2 separate regions of the Homo sapiens genome follow, and region 2 is linked to region 1. Evidence: fine-mapped expression QTL. Tissue or cell type: skeletal muscle. Region 1 holds a variant in brackets; the other region holds the start of a gene. All regions are shown on one strand. Distances are from middle to middle.

Region 1 (8,102 bases):
GCCTCCCAAAGTGCTCGTATTACAGGCATGAGCCACCACGCCCGGCCACCCTTACCCTCTTGATACTACAAAGCCTCTTGTGGTCCACTGGTACCAGGCACAAGCCCTGTGTGGCCCTGCAGAGTGTGTCCTCCTCTCCTGAGCTGTGAGTACATGTGACTCATAAACTGCTCTGGATCTCTTCTGTCCAGATTCGGGTGTCCTGTGTTCAGCCATTGCCATAATCCTAGGTCAGGAATCCCTCCTGCACTGATGAAGTCAAGAGAGGTGATTAAAACAAGCGTTCCAGTATATCTCACTTGGGTTACATAACTGGGCCTTGTTTTCTTCAGCTTCCAATAGTAATTTCCTGGGCTGGGCGCTGTGGCTCATGCCTGTTATCCCAGCACTGGGAGGCCGAGGCAGGCAGATCATCTGAGGTCAGGAGTTCGAGACCAGCTTGACCAACATGGTGAAACTCCATCTCTACTAAAAATACAAAAAAATTAGCTGGACATGGTGGTGCATGCCTGTAATCTCAGCTACTCAGGAGGCAGAGGCAGGAGAATTGCTTGAACCCGGGAGGTGGAGGTTGCAGTGAGCTGAGATCGCACCACTGCACTCCAGCCTGGGCAACAGAGTGACACTCTCTCAAAAACAAAACAAAACAAAAAATAAAAAAAATAAAAATAAAAAAACTCTATATTGGGCCAGATGTGGTGGCTCATGCCTGTAATCCCAGTGATTTGGGAGGCCGAGGCAGGTGGATCACCTGAGGTCAGAAGTTCGGGACTAGCCTGACCAAAATGGTGAAACCCTGTCTCTACTAAAAATACAAAAAAATTAGCCGGCCATGGTGGCAAATGAGCAGTGAGTCAAGATGTGCCACTGTACTCCAGCCTGGACGACAAGAGTGAAACTCCATCTCAGAAAAAAAAAGAAAAAAGTAATTTCCTCACTGTTCTTTAAGCTTTCACTAACAGTTTTGTCAAGGTCCTTTCTACTCTCTGGTCCCCAAACCAATGCCAGGTGTATTTTTTGTTTCTGTACCACCCTACTTTTACGTGTCACACTGTCTTCCGGTCATTGATCATAACAAACCACCCCAAAATTCAGTAGCTCAAAACAATAGTTGTTCATTGGCTTACAATATTGCTATATATGTGTGTGTATATATATATTTTTTTCTTTTCTTTTCTTTTCTTTCCTTTTCTTTTTTTTTTTTCTCTTTTTTTTGAGACAGAGTTTTGCTCTTGTTGCCCAGGCTGGAGAGTAGTGGCATGATCTCACCTCGCTGCAACCTCTACCTCCCGGGTTCAAGTGATTCTCCTGTCTCAGCCTCCCCAGTAGCTGGGATTACAGGCGCCTGCCACCACTCTCGGCTAATTTTGTATTTTTAGTAGAGACGGGGTTTCTCCATGTTGGTCTCCTGGCTAGGAGACTGGTCTCGAACTCCCAACCTCAGGTGATCCACCCACCTTGGCCTCCCAGAGTGCTGGGATTACAGGCATGAGCCACCGTGCCTGGCCTATATATATTTTTTAATAGAGATGGTGTCTTGCTGTATTGCCCAGGCTAGTCTCTAACTCCTAGGCTCAAGTGATCCTCCCACCTCAGCCTCTCAAAGTGCTGGGATTACAGGCATGAGCCACCGCACCTGGCCACAGTATTGCAATTTTGTGGGCTCAGCAGGGCCATCTCTTAGCTCCATGTGGCATCAGCTGGGATACCTTGACTGGGCTGGAAGGCCCACCTCCAAGATGGCTCATTCTCCTGCCTGGGAGACTGCGGGGTGGCTGGGAGCCACTGTTACCCTCCGTGTGGACCTATCCATGGAGCTGCTTGTGAAATTGCCTGAGGAGTTCGTCTTGTCCGCTGCACAGATAAACCCAATTCACTGAGACAGCATTGTTGCAGTAAAGAAAGTTTAATTGGCCGGGTGCGGTGGCTCACGCCTGTAATCCCAGCACATTGGGAGGCCAAAGTGGGTGGATCATGAGGTCAGCAGTTCAAGACCAGCCTGACCAACATGGTGAAACCCCGTCTCTACTAAAAATACAAAAAAATTAGCTGGGCATGGTGGCAGGTGCCTGTAATCCCAGCTACTCAGCAGGCTAAGGCAGGAGAATCACTGGGTGGTGGAGGTTGCAGTGAGCCGAGATCGTGCCACTGCACTCCAGCCTGGGTGACAGAGAAAGACTCCACCCCCACCCCACCCCCCAAAAAAGATGAGAAAGTTTAATTAATGCAAGGCTGGCCAACTGGAAGGACAGGAGTTTATGATTGCTCTGATCAGCCTCCCCAGGAACTCAGAGGCTAGGCTTTTAATGGATAATTTGGTTTGCAGTTGGGGGGTGGGAGTGAAGGGGGGTGAGGAGGGTGTAGTAGGGAATGGGTGCTGCTGATTGGTTGGGGATGCACTCAGAAGTGGGTGGGAACAATCCTTGTGCTCTGAGTCCACCCCTGGGTGGGGGACACGGACTGGTTGAGTCATGAGTCGTCATAGATCCAGGTGGGGTCAGTAGGTTGTCAGAATGCAAAAGTGTGAAAAACATCTCAAAAAACCAATCTCCGTTTCTACAATAGTGACATTGTCTATAGGAGCCATTGGGGACGTCATGAATCTTGGCCATATGACTCCTGAGCAGTAAGGGATGATGGAAACTAGGTCTACATTTTAGCAGAATTCAGGCCCCTCTGTTATCCGAATCTCATGGACTTTTCTTTAGTTTAGCAAAGGTGGTTTCAGTTTCCAAGCAAGGAAGGAAGCAGTTTTAGGGAGGGACTATTACTGTCTTTGCTTTAAACTATAAACTGGACCTAAAGGCCAGGTGCAGTGGCTCACGCCTGTAATCCCAGCATTTTGGGAGGCTGAGGCGGGTGGATCACTTGAGGTCAGCAGTTTGAGACCAGCCTGGCCAACATGGTGAAGCCCCGTCTCTACTAAAAATACAAAAATTAGCTGGGCGTGGTGGCGCATGCCTGTAATTCCAGCTACTTGGGAGGCTGAGGCAGGAGAATCCTTGAACCCCGGAGGTGGAGTTGCAGTGAGCCGAGATCGCACCACTGCACTCCAGCTTGGGCAGCAGAGCGAGACTCCATCTAAAAAAACCCACAAAACAATGGGCCAGGCATGGTGGCGGGTGGCTGTAGTCTCAGCTACTCCCAGCTACTTGGGAGGCTGAGGCAGGAGAATGGTGTGAACCCAGGAAAGCGGAGCTTGCAGTGAGTTGCGATCACGTCACTGCACTCCAGCCTGGGCGACAGAGTGAGATTCCATCTCAAAAAAAGAAAAACAAGCAAAGAAACAAACAAAAAAAAAACCAAAAAAACCCACAAAACAACAACAAAAAAATTAAACTGGGCACAAAGAGAGGAACAACCGACACCAGGGCCTACTTGAGGGTGGAGGGTGGGAGCAGGGTGAGGATGGAAAAGCTACCCGTCAGGTACTGTGCTTGCCACCTGGCTGATGAAAACATCTGTGTAGGAAACCCCAGCCACATACGATTTACCCACGCAACAAACCTGCACATGCACCCCCTGAACCTAGAATAAATGTTGAAAAAGAAAACAAACAAACTATAAACTAAATTTCTCCCAGGGTTAGTTTGGCCTACGCCCAGGAATGCCTAAGGCCAGCCAGCCCGTGAGGCTGGAAGCAGGATGGAGTCAGCTGCGCTAGACTTATCTGGCCGTCATAATCTTTGCAAAGGTGATGTCAGTCGGGCTTCCTCGCAGCACGGTATTTGGGTTCCGAGAAAGGAAGTGGAAACTTCCTGTTCTCTTAATGGTCAGGCCCCGAGTGGCACATCCTTACTTCTGCCACTGTGCCAGGTCCAGGCTGGACCCAGGGAATTCGATGTAAGTTCCATGTTGTTCTGTGGTGAGCAGGTCTGTGCAAACCTACTCCCAAAGGCCCAGGAAGCTGAGAGATTCAAAGAAAGCCTCAAAGAAAGAGGCTGCCAACTGGGTGCGGTGGCTCACACCTGTAATCCCAGCACTTTGGGAGGCCAAGGCTGGTGGATCACGAGGTCAGGAAATCGAGACCATCCTGGCTAACACAGTGAAACCCCGTCTCTACTAAAAATACAAAAAAATTAGCCAGGCGTGGCGGCGTGCACCTGTAGTCCCAGTTGCTGGGGAGGCTGAGGCAGGAGAATGGCGTGAACCTGGGAGGCGGAGCTTGCAGTGAGCCAAGATTGCGCCACTGCACTCCAGCCTGGGTGACATAGCAAGACTCCGTCTCAAAAAAAAAAAAAAGAAAAGAAAAGAAAAGAAAGAGGCTAACAAATGCATTTTCTCAGAAAGAAACATTTACTAAAGACTTACACACAGAAGCCATGTCTCAGGAGGCCACGAGATTAGATGGATCCCTGTGCCCCTACCCCCAAGACCCAGGGCTTTAAATACCAT[A/G]GAGAAATTGTATACATACTTTAGAAGAAGTTTGTAAGACAATTGAAGTAATTTGACTAAGGGCAGGATAATGTTGTTTTGACCTACGGGCAGGATTTACACTACGTGCACACTCTTTTTTTTAGACAGGTTGTTGGCTGGGTGCGGTGGCTCACACCTGTAGTCCCAGCACTTTGGGCAGCCAAGGCAGGTGGATCACCTGAGGTCAGGAGTTCGAGACCAGCCTGGCCAACATGGCAAAACCCTGTTTCTCCTACAAATACAAAAATTAGACAGTCGTGGTGGCAGGCGCCTGTAATCCCAGCTACTCAGGAGGCTGAGGCAGGAGAATCGCTTGAACCCAGGAGGTGGAGGTTGCAGTGAGCCAAGATCACACCACTGCACTCCAGCCTGGACAACAGAGCTCAACTCCATCTCAAAGGAAAAAAAGACAGGCCCTCGCTCTGTTGCCCAGGCTGGAGGGCAATGATGGGATAATAGATCACTGCAGACTCAAACTCCTGGGCTCAGGCAATCCTCCAGCCTCAGTCTCCTGAACGGTTTGGGACTACAGGCACACGCACCATGCCCAGCTAATTTTTAATTATTATTATTATTTTTTTGTAGAGATGGGGTCTCACTATGTTGCCAGGGCTGGAGGTACGTGTTTTTAACAGTAGATAAAGTAGTCCTGGAACTGAGGGTAATCAGAAGTCAACATGGCAGCTTAGCATCTAAGACGGAGTGGCTTTGGCCTCCAGATACCTCTTGTTAGGACTGGTGTATGTGTGCAGAAAGGGGAAGAATTATTTGAAACCATCTTTGGAGATCAGCTACCACACCCCTGATTACACAAATGAAGAAGCTGAGATTCAGAGATGGGACTGGTGGCTCAGGGGACAGAGGATTCATTGAGCTGTTTCTATGTGCCTGTGCTGTGCTGGGTGCTCCCAGACGCAATCTCTTTTTTTCTTTTGAGACGGAGTCTTGCTCTGTCACCCAGGCTGGAGTGTAGTGGCCTAATCTTGGCTCATTGCAACCTCCACCTCCCGGGTTCAAGCGATTCTCTTGCCTCAGCCTCCCGAGTAGCTGGGATTACAGGCGTGCGTCACCTTGCCCGGCTAATTTTTTTTATTTTTAGTAGAGTCGGGATTTCACCATATTGGCCAGGCTGGTCTTAAATTCCTGTCCTCAGATGATCTGCCCGCCTCGGCCTCCCAAAGTGCTGGAATTACAGGCGTGAGCCACCGCACCTGGCCACCCACATGAAATCATATGAGGTAGAAGCAATTGTGTTTTTTGTTTGTTTGTTTGTTTGTTTTCTGAGATGGAGTCTCACTCTGTTGCCCAGGCTGGAGTGCAGTGGCATGATCTTGGCTCACTGTGACTTCTGCCTCCTGGGTTAGAGTGATTCTCCTGCCTCAGCCTCCTGAGTAGCTGAGATTACAGGCGCACCCCATCATGCCTGGCTAATTTTTGTATTTTTAGTAAAGACGGGGTTTCACCATGTTGGCCAGGCTGGTCTCAAACTCCTGAGCTCAAGTGATCCGCTCACCTCGGCCTCCCAAAGTGCTGGGATTACAGGCATGAGCCAATGTGCCTGGCCAGAAGCAGTTGTTATCCCCATTTTACAGGTGAGGAAACTGAGGCACAAGCAGGTGGGTAACTTGCCTACAGCCACACAGCTGTTGGAAGAGGGCCCAGAGTTAAATCTGAGCAGTCTGACTCTGAGCCAGTAGCAAAGTCCAAAAACCGTTACATTTTTGCCTTGGGAAGTGGATTTGGCATTAACAACAAAGTGGAATTGTGCCCAAGATGCTAGGGAGTTCAAATAAAACAAAATGTGACATTCTTCATGCTGCAGCATAGTGCATTCTGGGAAATCATGGCATACAATGACTTGGATTTTTCCCAGAGGAAACCTCTCTAGCAGACCTGGCTAGTTCCTCCCCAGCACCCACTCCACTGTCATACACCACAATGGGGTTTTCAGGTCAGCACCTGGCTCCCTACCTAGCAACTGTTTTTCCCAGATCCTCTTGCAAGGACGGGCAGTAAGGGCTGGCCAATGGGATAAGAGAAGAAAGAAGTGACATAATGATCTCTGGGTCAAGTCAGCTGGCTCAGTGTGGGTGCAACAGCAGGAGCTGGAGCAGCTGCTTTGGACCATGAGATGAGAGCTGAGTGTTAAGGAACAGAGCAGGGTTGCAGGAGTCTGGGGTGTTTGGATGACTTTGGGGGAGAAGATCAATCTTTGGGCCCTGACTGCCCACCTCTGGTCTCTTACCTCAGAGGGAAATACAGTTCCACCTTCTTTACGCCATTATTTTATTTTATTTTTTATTTTATTTTTTTTTGAGACAGAGTCTCGCTCTCGCCCAGGCTGGAGTGCAGTGGCCTGATCTCGGCTCACTGCAAGCTCCGCCTCCCGGGTTCATGCCATTCTCCTGCCTCAGCCTCCCAAGTAGCTGTGACTACAGGTGCCCGCTACCATGCCTGGCTAATTTTTTTGTATTTTTAGTAGAGACGGGGTTTCACTGTGTTAGCCAGGATGGTCTCAATCTCCTGACCTCGTGATCCGCCTGCCTCCACCTCTCAAAGTGTGGGGATTACAGGCGTGAGCCACCACGCCCGGCCCTTTAGGCCATTATTAATGGAGGGTGTTTGCCTCCCTGTGTGGGTCTCCTGGGTATTCTGTATGGTACTGTGTGGTAACTTACAGATTGTCTTTTTTTTTTTTTTTTGAGACAGTCTCGCTCTCTCCCCCAGGCTGGAGTGCAATGGCGCGATCTTGGCTCACTGCAACCTCCACCTCCTGGGTTCAAGCAATTCTCCTGTCTCAACCTCCTGAGTAGCTGGGACTACAGGCGTGTGCCACCACGCCCAGCTAAACTTTTTTAGTAGAGATGGGGTTTCACCGTGTTAGTCAGGATGGTCTGGATCTCCTCAGCTCATGATCTGCCTGCTTTGGCCTCCCAAAGTGCTGGGATTACAGGCGTGAGCCACCGTGCCCGGCCCAGATTGTCTTAAAGTGGGAGATGTGTGCTTCTCTAGGGATGTGCCAGCTGGACCAGTAAATCTCTATGGTCTATGGTCCCTCACAGTTTGTTTGTTTGTTTGTTTGTTTGTTTCTGTTTTTTTTTGTTGCTGTTGTTGTTGTTGTTGTTTTAGATGGAGTCTTGCTCTAGCTCCCAGGCTGGAGTGCAATGGTGCCATCTTGGCTCACTGCAACCTCCGCCTCCTGGGTTCAAGCAATTCTCCTGTCTCAGCCTCCCGAGTAGCTGGGATTACAGGCGCCTGCAACCACGCCTGGCTAATTTTTGGATTTGTAGGAGAGACAGTTTCACCATGTTGGCCAGGCTGGTCTCGAACTCCTGACCTCAAGTGATCCACCCACCTTGGCCTCCCAAAGTGCTGGGATTACAGGTGTGAGCCACCGAGCCCAGCCCCTCCCAGTCTTGAAATTCAGTGGTTATAGGATAGGACAGGTTTTGGTTAGGCTGAGGAAACCCAAAGTTTCAAGGCTCTGGACTGGATTCGGAGTTTTCCTTTCCTTTCTTTTCTTTTAGACAGAGTCTCACTCTATTGCTCATGCTGGAGTGCAGTTCATCATTGTTCATCACAGCCCTGATCTCCTGGGCTCAGGTGATCCTCCCGCCTCAGCCTCCTGTGTTGCTGGGACTACAGGCTCATGCCACCATGCCAGCTAATATATATAGATTTTTAAA
Region 2 (8,102 bases), 50 kb after region 1:
AGATAAAGTAAAACAAAAAACTTGCTGCTCCTCTCTATCTCTCTGTCTCACAGACATACACCCACACACACACCCACGCACGCACAAACACACCCACAAATAAGAGCCAAATGATAAACTGGGGAAAGATCCTTGGCACACAAAGACCAGACAAGGGGTAAAACCTTACTGATGAGCTCAAACCAATCAATAAGCAACACACAAAGAACCTGGCTTCTCGTACTCTGACCCAGGAGTTTCATTTCTAGGAAATACGAAGAAATATCTAGCTGGGTCCAGATACAGCCATTCTAGAAGTTCATACGCACTGATTACCAGGTTAATTCCTTCCCAGGAAAGATGTGGCCATGTATAAATGTATGCAGAAATTCAATGTAACATTATCAAAAAGAGCCAAATATATTTTTAAAAAGTCAAGAGATCCAATAACTCAACATGACATAGCAAAATGCAAGCATTGAAAAATATAAAAAATGTCTGCGATGAGGAATGCTCGTGAAATTATACTAATGGAAAAATATTTTATATAGACAAGATATGCAAATACAGAAAAACGTGTTATTTTATTATTTATTTATTTATTTTTGGAGACGGAGTCTCGCTCTGTTGCTCAGGCTGGAGTGCAGTGGCGCCATCTCGGCTCACTGCACTCTCTGCCTCCCAGGTTCAAATGATTCTCCTGCCTCAGCCTCCTGAGTAGCTGGGATTGCAGGCACGTGCCACCACGCCCAGTTAATTTATTGTATTTTTAGTGGAGATGGGGGGTTTCACCAAGTTGGCCAGGCTGGTCTCGAACTCCTGACTTCAAGTGATCCACCCGCCTCAGCCTCCCAAAGTGCTGGGATTACAGGCGTGAGCCACCTCGCCCGGCTGGAAAAACGTGTTTTTAAAGGTCTGGCAAAAAAAAAGGCAAATGTTAACAATAGTTGTCTTCAAGTATGCAAACAGGAATTGTTTTTCCTACTTCTTTCGGTTAATTCATTCAAACAATATTCAGGAAGCACCTGCTAGGTGCCAGGCCTGGCACTAGGCTCTGGGATCTGGACAAGGGTCCTTCCCTCCAGGAGCTTCCAATCTGGAGGGAAGCATGCGGTGAGCCAATGAAAATGCAGGGTGATCAACAGGAGTTTGTGAGCACGCCTAGCAGGTCCCCAAAGAAGGAGGCAGCTGGGGAGAGTGAGAGGAGGTGCACTTCAGAACTCAGATGGCTGGCTTGGTGGTGGAGGCCGTCCACCTGCCACCACCTTCCGGGACCTGCATCCCCAGCTGAACTGCATCCTTGGAGGTCTGAACCCAGTGGCCCCGTGGCCAGGTGGGCTTGGGAGTTGCTAGCTGGGGCTGATGTGGTAGTTCACAACCTCCTGGTGTTCCACACAAACCACCTGGAGATTCTGCCAATCCTGCTCCACACTGGGGTCCCAGGGCCCATCACACGAACTGGAAATTAATGGACCCATTAACCTAGCAGCTAGAGGGCTTCAATTAGTACAAGGAAACAAAACATATTTTGTAGATGGCTGTCCATTTTGGAGTTTATCCTCTAATACTGAGCTGTCCTAGCAGACAAGAAACGACAGGCACCCAAGGCATTAGAAAAATGTTTGAGAGAAAAACTAATGACAACATTGGGTGTAGTGGTGTGTGCCTGCAGTCTCAGCCACTAGGGAAGCTGGGGTGGGAGGATCGCTTGAGCCTAGCAGTTTGAGACTACAGTGAGCTGCCACAGCATTCCAGCCTGGGTGACAGAGGGAGACCCTAAAAAACAAACAAACAGAAAACTAATGACAGAGAGGATTCCATCTCTCCTCTTCCTTTCTTTTCCTTTCTATTTTGTTTTCCTTTGTATTCCTTTGATTTGGGGACCCTCTTTTGGGGGGTTGCAGCTATGGAAACACAGTGTAGCAGGGTTTCGGGTCCTGGAGAAGGTTTGAGGCTGGAAGAGGGCTGTGGGAAATCTTGAGGGAGGCCTGGCTCCATCCGCACTCTGCTATGGGACCCTGGGCAGGGTGGCTCCCTCATTCTTTGGGAGGAGGTGACAAAGGGGAAGTCTTTGGGCAGCTGGTGGCGGGAACGGGAAGGCCAGACCTGGCCTGAGACCCACCAGGTGCTCGGGGTTATTTGCTGAGTGCAGGGTACGTGACCCCAAGGGGCCTTCGCGGAACAATCACTCGACGTTGGCGGAGGGGAGGAAGCCGCAGAGAGGGTGTCGTGAGGGAAAGGTGGGTGCAGGGGAAATGGCGCTTTAACCCACTCAGGGCCAGAGGCTCAGCCGAGACTATCCAGGTGGGAACTTGTCCCTCCGGATGACAGGTGATGAAACTGAGGGAAGGGGACTCGCCCTGGCAGTGAAACGGGATGGGCGCTGGGACCAGGTGCCCCGGCAGATCCTCTCCCAAGCCCAGTTCCGCTCCCGCTCAGTCCTCAACCTTCCCCAGCTGGAGAGGAGGGAGGGGCGCCTGCGGATCCGAGGCGAGCGCGGAGGCCGGGCGACTCCAACCGGCTCGCCCCGTGCCCAGCTCGTACCCAGGCCGTTTCCCGCACGGGGAGGGCCCTTCCCGCTTCTGGGCAGGTCCAAATCCTCACCCTCCCTAAGGCCGGCGCCGACGCTGCCAGCCCGGCAGAGCCCCCTCCTGCCGGCCGCTCTCCATCCCCGTCCCCGGTCGCATCCGCTCCGGGGCGAGCACCGCCCGACGCCCAGGCTTCCCCCGGACGGAGGAGCGCGACTCACCCACGGTGGCCGGGCAGAGCCTGCCTCGAACCCGGCTTCTCCCCGACGCCCTCTCTCCAGCCCCGGGACCCAACCGGGTGGGGCTGCCCTCGAGGGCTCCGGAGCCAGGCGCGTCCTGCCCGCGAGGGCCGGGGCTCCGGGTCCCGCCGCCGCGCTCCACTTCGGGGCGCAGTTGGGGTGGAGGCGGTGGCCGGGACCGCCGCGCGGGGTTCGTGCGCGCACAAATGTCGCCTCCAGAACAGGTGGCCCGGGCTAGGGCGGCGGCCCAGCCCCTCCGCCCCTGCCCCTGCCTTCCCGAGGCGCCTCCTCCCCACTGCGAGCCGCAGGATCCCCCTGGAGCCCCCGTCCCCCGCAACATCGGCGCGGCCCCTCGTACCTCTAGCTCCAGCGGCGGCGGGCGGCGGACAGCGGGGCCCCGGCGGGCGGGCGGCGCGGCGGCCGGAGGGCAGTGCCTGGGGCCCGGCGGGAGGCAGCACCGCCCCTCCGGCCCGGGGCGGGGTCAGGCCGCCCCGCCCCGCCCGTCCCGACCTACCCTGCGGGTCCCGGTCCCCAGAGCCCTTGCGGGGTCCCCGCGACCCCGCCCGCGCGCCCTCGCTGCTCCCCGGGGCGGGTGCGGACAGTCCCCAGTCCGCCGGCCAACAGGTAGGGAGCGCTCCCCGGCCTCCGCGCCGCCAGTATTACGGGTTACCATCCCGTTTTCCCCATTGAACTGATGAGAAAACTGAGGTTCAGAGGGTTGAGTACCTCGATATTCTGCAGTGGAGAAGGGACGCTGTCACCCCTGGGACCCGGGTCGGCCTGATCCCACCGCCTCCTGCCGGGACCGTGCTAAGGGCATTGCCTGCATCACCCCAGTGTTTGCGGAATTCCAGTTATTTGCTGTATCCTTAACGCCGCCCCGTCCTTTCTCTACTCCTCCTCCTCACTCTCACCTCGCCCCATCTTCACACATATTGCTATTGGTAATTTGTTCAATGTGAGAAATTGGAATGTATCACACACAATTCGTGTATCATAAAACTGTATTTTATTCTCTTTGGAACATGCCATGTTTCCAGCATGTCACAGTCCTGGTGCTTTTAGTTCTTACTCCTCTGGGACAACAAAGACTGCAAAAAATGAAACCATTGGGTGACTTCTTGAGTGCTGACGCCCATCCTCTCACTCAGCTGATGACCCAGTGCCCAAGCCACTGAGAAAATGGAACCTCTATCCTAGCCCTGAGAAAGAGCCTGGCACTCAATGGGTGCCCAATAAATACACTTCGAATGAAGGAATCAGTAGAAAATTCCCACCAGCTCCCCCACCCACCCGCTGAGGTAGCACCCAGTCCCTTCCCTCTTGGGACCGGGCTGAACCCGTCCAGCTCCTGGCCACGACCACCCCCTCCAGAAGATCCCGACCCTTCACGCCAACACTGATCCCGAAACCCTGCCCTCTCTCCATTCTCCCTGGGTCATTCCCATCACAGGCTGTTACTTCTCCCATCTTAAAACGGAAACAAGAGGCCAGGCAAGCACTCACGCCTGTAATCCCAGCACTTTGGGAGGCCAAAGCAAGCAGGTCACCTGAGATCAGAAGTTCAAGACCAGCCTGGCCAACATGGTGAAACTCCATCTCTACAAAATACAAAAATTAGCTGGACATGCTCACTTGAACCCAGGAGGTGGAGGTTGCAGTGAGCCTAGATCATGCCACTGCACTCCAGCCTGGGTGACAAGAGCCAGACTCTGTCTCAAAAAAAAAAAAAAAAAAAAAAAAAAAAAGAATGAATGCGGACCCTTTCTCCACTGGTAATACTCATTTTTTTTTTTTTTTTTTTTTTTTTTTGAGAAGAGACTCACTCTGTTACCTAGGCTGGAGTGCAGTGACACCATCTCGGCTCACTGAAACCTCTGTCTCCTGGTTTCAAGTGATTCTCCTGCCTCAGCCTCCTGAGTAGCTGGGACTACAGGCATGCACAACCATGGCTAATTTTTGTATTTTTAGTAGAGACAGGGTTTCACCATGTTGGCCAGGCTGGTCTTGAACTCCTGACCTCAAGTGATTCACCCGCCTCAGCCTCCCACAGTGTGGTGATTACAGATGTGAGCCACGGCACCTGGCCCACTTGTAATACTTTTAATGCTTTTGCTTTATGTTGGCTTTTCCATGATCACAAATGTATTTTTCAGAGAAACTTTGTATTGCTACCCTAAATGGAACACCAGTATCTCAGAGACTAGAAGGCAACAGTAAAAATAAAACTAAAACAATGTTATAAAGCCCGGGTAGGTCCTGTTGCCCCTCCAAGAGCTGAGTTCCTCCTGCCCTCTCCTTGTTAAAAGGAAGATTCATCCCAGCACTTTGGGAGACCGAGGCGGGCAGATCACAAGGGCAGGAGATCGAGACCATCCTGGCTAACAAGGTGAAACCCCGTCTCTACTAAAAATACAAAAAAATCAGCCAGGCGTGGTGGCGGGCACCTGTAGTCCCAGCTACTCAGGAGGCTGAGGCAGGAGAATGGCGTGAACCCGGGAGGCGGAGCTTGCAGTGAGCCGAGATCGCGCCACTGCACTCCAGCCTGGGCGACAGAGTGAGACTCCGTCTCAAAAAAAGAAAAAAAAGGAAGATTCGAAAGGTGTAGAGAGATATTCAAGGCAGGCCAGCACCCAGCAAAGACTTGCCCCTGGACTTAAGCAAAGGGATTAAAGAGAATTGAGAAGGGAATGGCTTTCTTAGAATAGCCATCGCTGGAGCTGTGCCCAGACCCACAAGCTCTTCCTGGCTATGTCTGGGGAAACGGTCTCCTTGCAGCTTGTTAATCTCACAACCCTCTGAGGTCACCCTGTTATCCCCATTTTACAGATGAAAAAAACGGAGGCTGGGCCAGGCGCAATGGCTCACGCCTGTAATCCCAGCACTTTGGCAGGCCAAGGCGGGCGGATCATGAGGTCAGGAGATCGAGACCATCCTGGCCAACATGGTGAAACCCCGTCTCTACTAAAAATACAAAAATTAGCTGGGCGTGGCGGCGTGCCCCTGTAGTCCCAGCTCCTCGGGAGGCTGAGGCAGGAGAATCACTCGAACCTGGGAGGCAGAGGTTGCAGTGAGCTGAGATCATGCCACTGCACTCCAGTATGGCGACAGAGCGAGACTTCATCTCAAAAACAAACAAACAAAAAAAAACGGAGGCTGTTGGCTGGGTGCAGTGGTTTAAGCCTGTAATCCCAGCACTTGGGTGGCCGAGGCATGCGGATCACCTAAGCTCGGGTGTTCAAGACCAGCCTGGCCAACATGGCAAAATCCCATCTCTACTAAAAATACAAAAATTAGCCAGATGTGGTGGTGCCTGCCTGTCATCCCTGCTACTCAGGAGGCTGAGGCAGAATTGCTCGAACCTGGGAGGCAGAGATTGCAGTGAGCCGAGATCATGCCACTGCACTCCAGCCTAGGTGAGAGCGAGACCCCGTCCCAGAAAAAAGAAAAATACTGAGCCCAAGATGGAAATTAACCTAAGCTCACAGAGGCTGAGGCAGTAGGATCATTTGAACCCAGGAGTTCAAGACCAGCCTGGGCAACATAAAATGATCCTATCTCAAAATAAAGGTAAGAAAGGAAAAAACAAGCAGAGGTTGGAATTCAAATTTGCCTGACCCCCAAAGCCCCAGCAGCCTTTGAGGCCAAATTATTTTCTAGCCTGACCTGTCCCGACTGCAGGGAGAGCTTCAGAGGCCAGGGCGTGAAGGAGGAAGCAGGGGACAAAAGAGCCTATGTGTCTGACCTGCCCTGGCCTCAGTTCACTCATCTGTGAAACTCTGCCCTGGAAGCACAGCCTGGCCCATGTTGCCCTGGGCTCTCCTGACCCCCGGAGCACCCCCTCCGCCTCTGAGCCCAGTGCTCCCCTCTTCCCTCCCTCCTAGCACCCTGGCAGGTCCCTTTCCTCCTAAGGTTGAGCACACAGGCTCTGAGAGGAAGGGAAGGCATGGCTCGTGGCTGGCTTTCTGGTTGGAGATGGAGAGGGCTGGGATGCTTGTGAAAGAAGAGAGTGATCTGCCTGGGGTTGAATCTGCCTCTCTTAGCAGGGTGGGTGTGGGCAGATTTTTTTTTCTTTCTTTTTTTGAGACACTCTTACTCAGGCTGGGATTTATTATTATTATTATTATTATTTAGAGACAGGGTCTCACTCTGTTGCCCAGGATGGAGTGCAGTGATGTGATTCCAACTCACTGCAGCCTTGACCTCCCAGGCACAAGTGATCCTCCTGCCTCAGCCTCCTGGGTAGCTGGGACCACAGGTGTGCACCACAATGCCTGGCTCTTTTTTTTTTTTTTTGAGATGGAGTTTTGCTCTTGTCACCCAGGCTGGAGTGCAATGGCGCAATCTCGGCTCACTGCAACCTCTGCCTCCTGAGTTCAAGTGATTCTCCTGCCTCAGCCTCACGAGTAGCTGGGATTACAGGTGCCCGCCACCACACCTGGCTAATTTTTTTATATTTTTAGTAGAGACAGGGTTTCACCACGTTGGTCAGGCTGGTCTTGATCACCTGACCTCTAATGATCCTCCCGCTTTGGCCTCCCAAAGTGCTGGGATTACAGGTGTGAGCCACCTCGCCCAGCTTCTAGGCTGAATTTCTTTTTTTTTTGAGACGGCGTCTCACTTTGTCGCCCAGGCTGAAGTGCAGTGCAGTGGCGCGATCTCAGCTCACTGCAAGCTCTGCCTCCCGGGTTCACGTCATTTTCCTGCCTCAGCCTCCCAAGTAGCTGGGACTACAGGCACCGGCCACCACGTCCGGCTAATTTTTTTTTTTTTTTTGTATTTTTAGTAGAGACGGGGTTTCGCTGTGTTGGCCAGACTGATCTCGAACTCCTGACCTTGTGATCCGCCCGCCTCGGCCTCTCAAAGTGCTGGGATTACAGGCGTGAGCCACCGCGCCCAGCTAGGCTGAAATTCTTAAACTCTTTGAACCAATGGGTTTCTCTCCCATCAGTAAACTGGAGCTGGTCATCTGGTTGTGAATGTTGAATAGAAAGCCTGTGGCCACTTTGGTCTACCTGCAATAAGGGAAGGATAAAGCACTGGCATAGTTACTGTTGGGGTGAACTCCTACCACTTGCTAAGCCCTTTCCAGGGGCACCCCTTACCCAGGAGGACCCTGGGGCTTAAGGAGCCAGGCACAGCCTTGCCTAAGGGCCCTCAGTTAATAGGTCTCAGTCCATAACTCTTAGTCCTGGCTAAGACAGTAGTGGTCCTGGAAGGTGGTGGGCTCCCTGCAGCCCCACTGGGCCCATGCTCCAAAGCAGATTTCATATCCACATGGGAAAGAACAGTCTGACAATTTGCACGGTTCGTGGTGTGGTGGCTTTCCAGCAATTTATTTCAACAGGCATTTCCT

The links. PIP is the estimated chance that this variant, and not a neighbour inherited with it, causes the effect.
Region 2: A4GALT starts here. The variant in region 1 is fine-mapped to the expression of A4GALT in skeletal muscle (GTEx, PIP 0.97).

The regions. Positions count from the first base shown.
Region 1 is chr22:42,667,838-42,675,939 of GRCh38, forward strand. No RefSeq gene overlaps it. Among named protein-coding and RNA genes, the nearest start is that of CYB5R3, 22 kb to the left of the region's middle. The variant A/G (reference allele first, on the strand shown) is at 4,396.
Region 2 is chr22:42,717,693-42,725,794 of GRCh38, forward strand. It overlaps A4GALT (alpha 1,4-galactosyltransferase (P1PK blood group)), which reads right to left and starts at 3,178. Exons shown (of 3, transcript NM_017436.7): 1 at 3,105-3,178. RefSeq lists silencers at 2,618-2,747, 2,828-3,057, 3,088-3,277.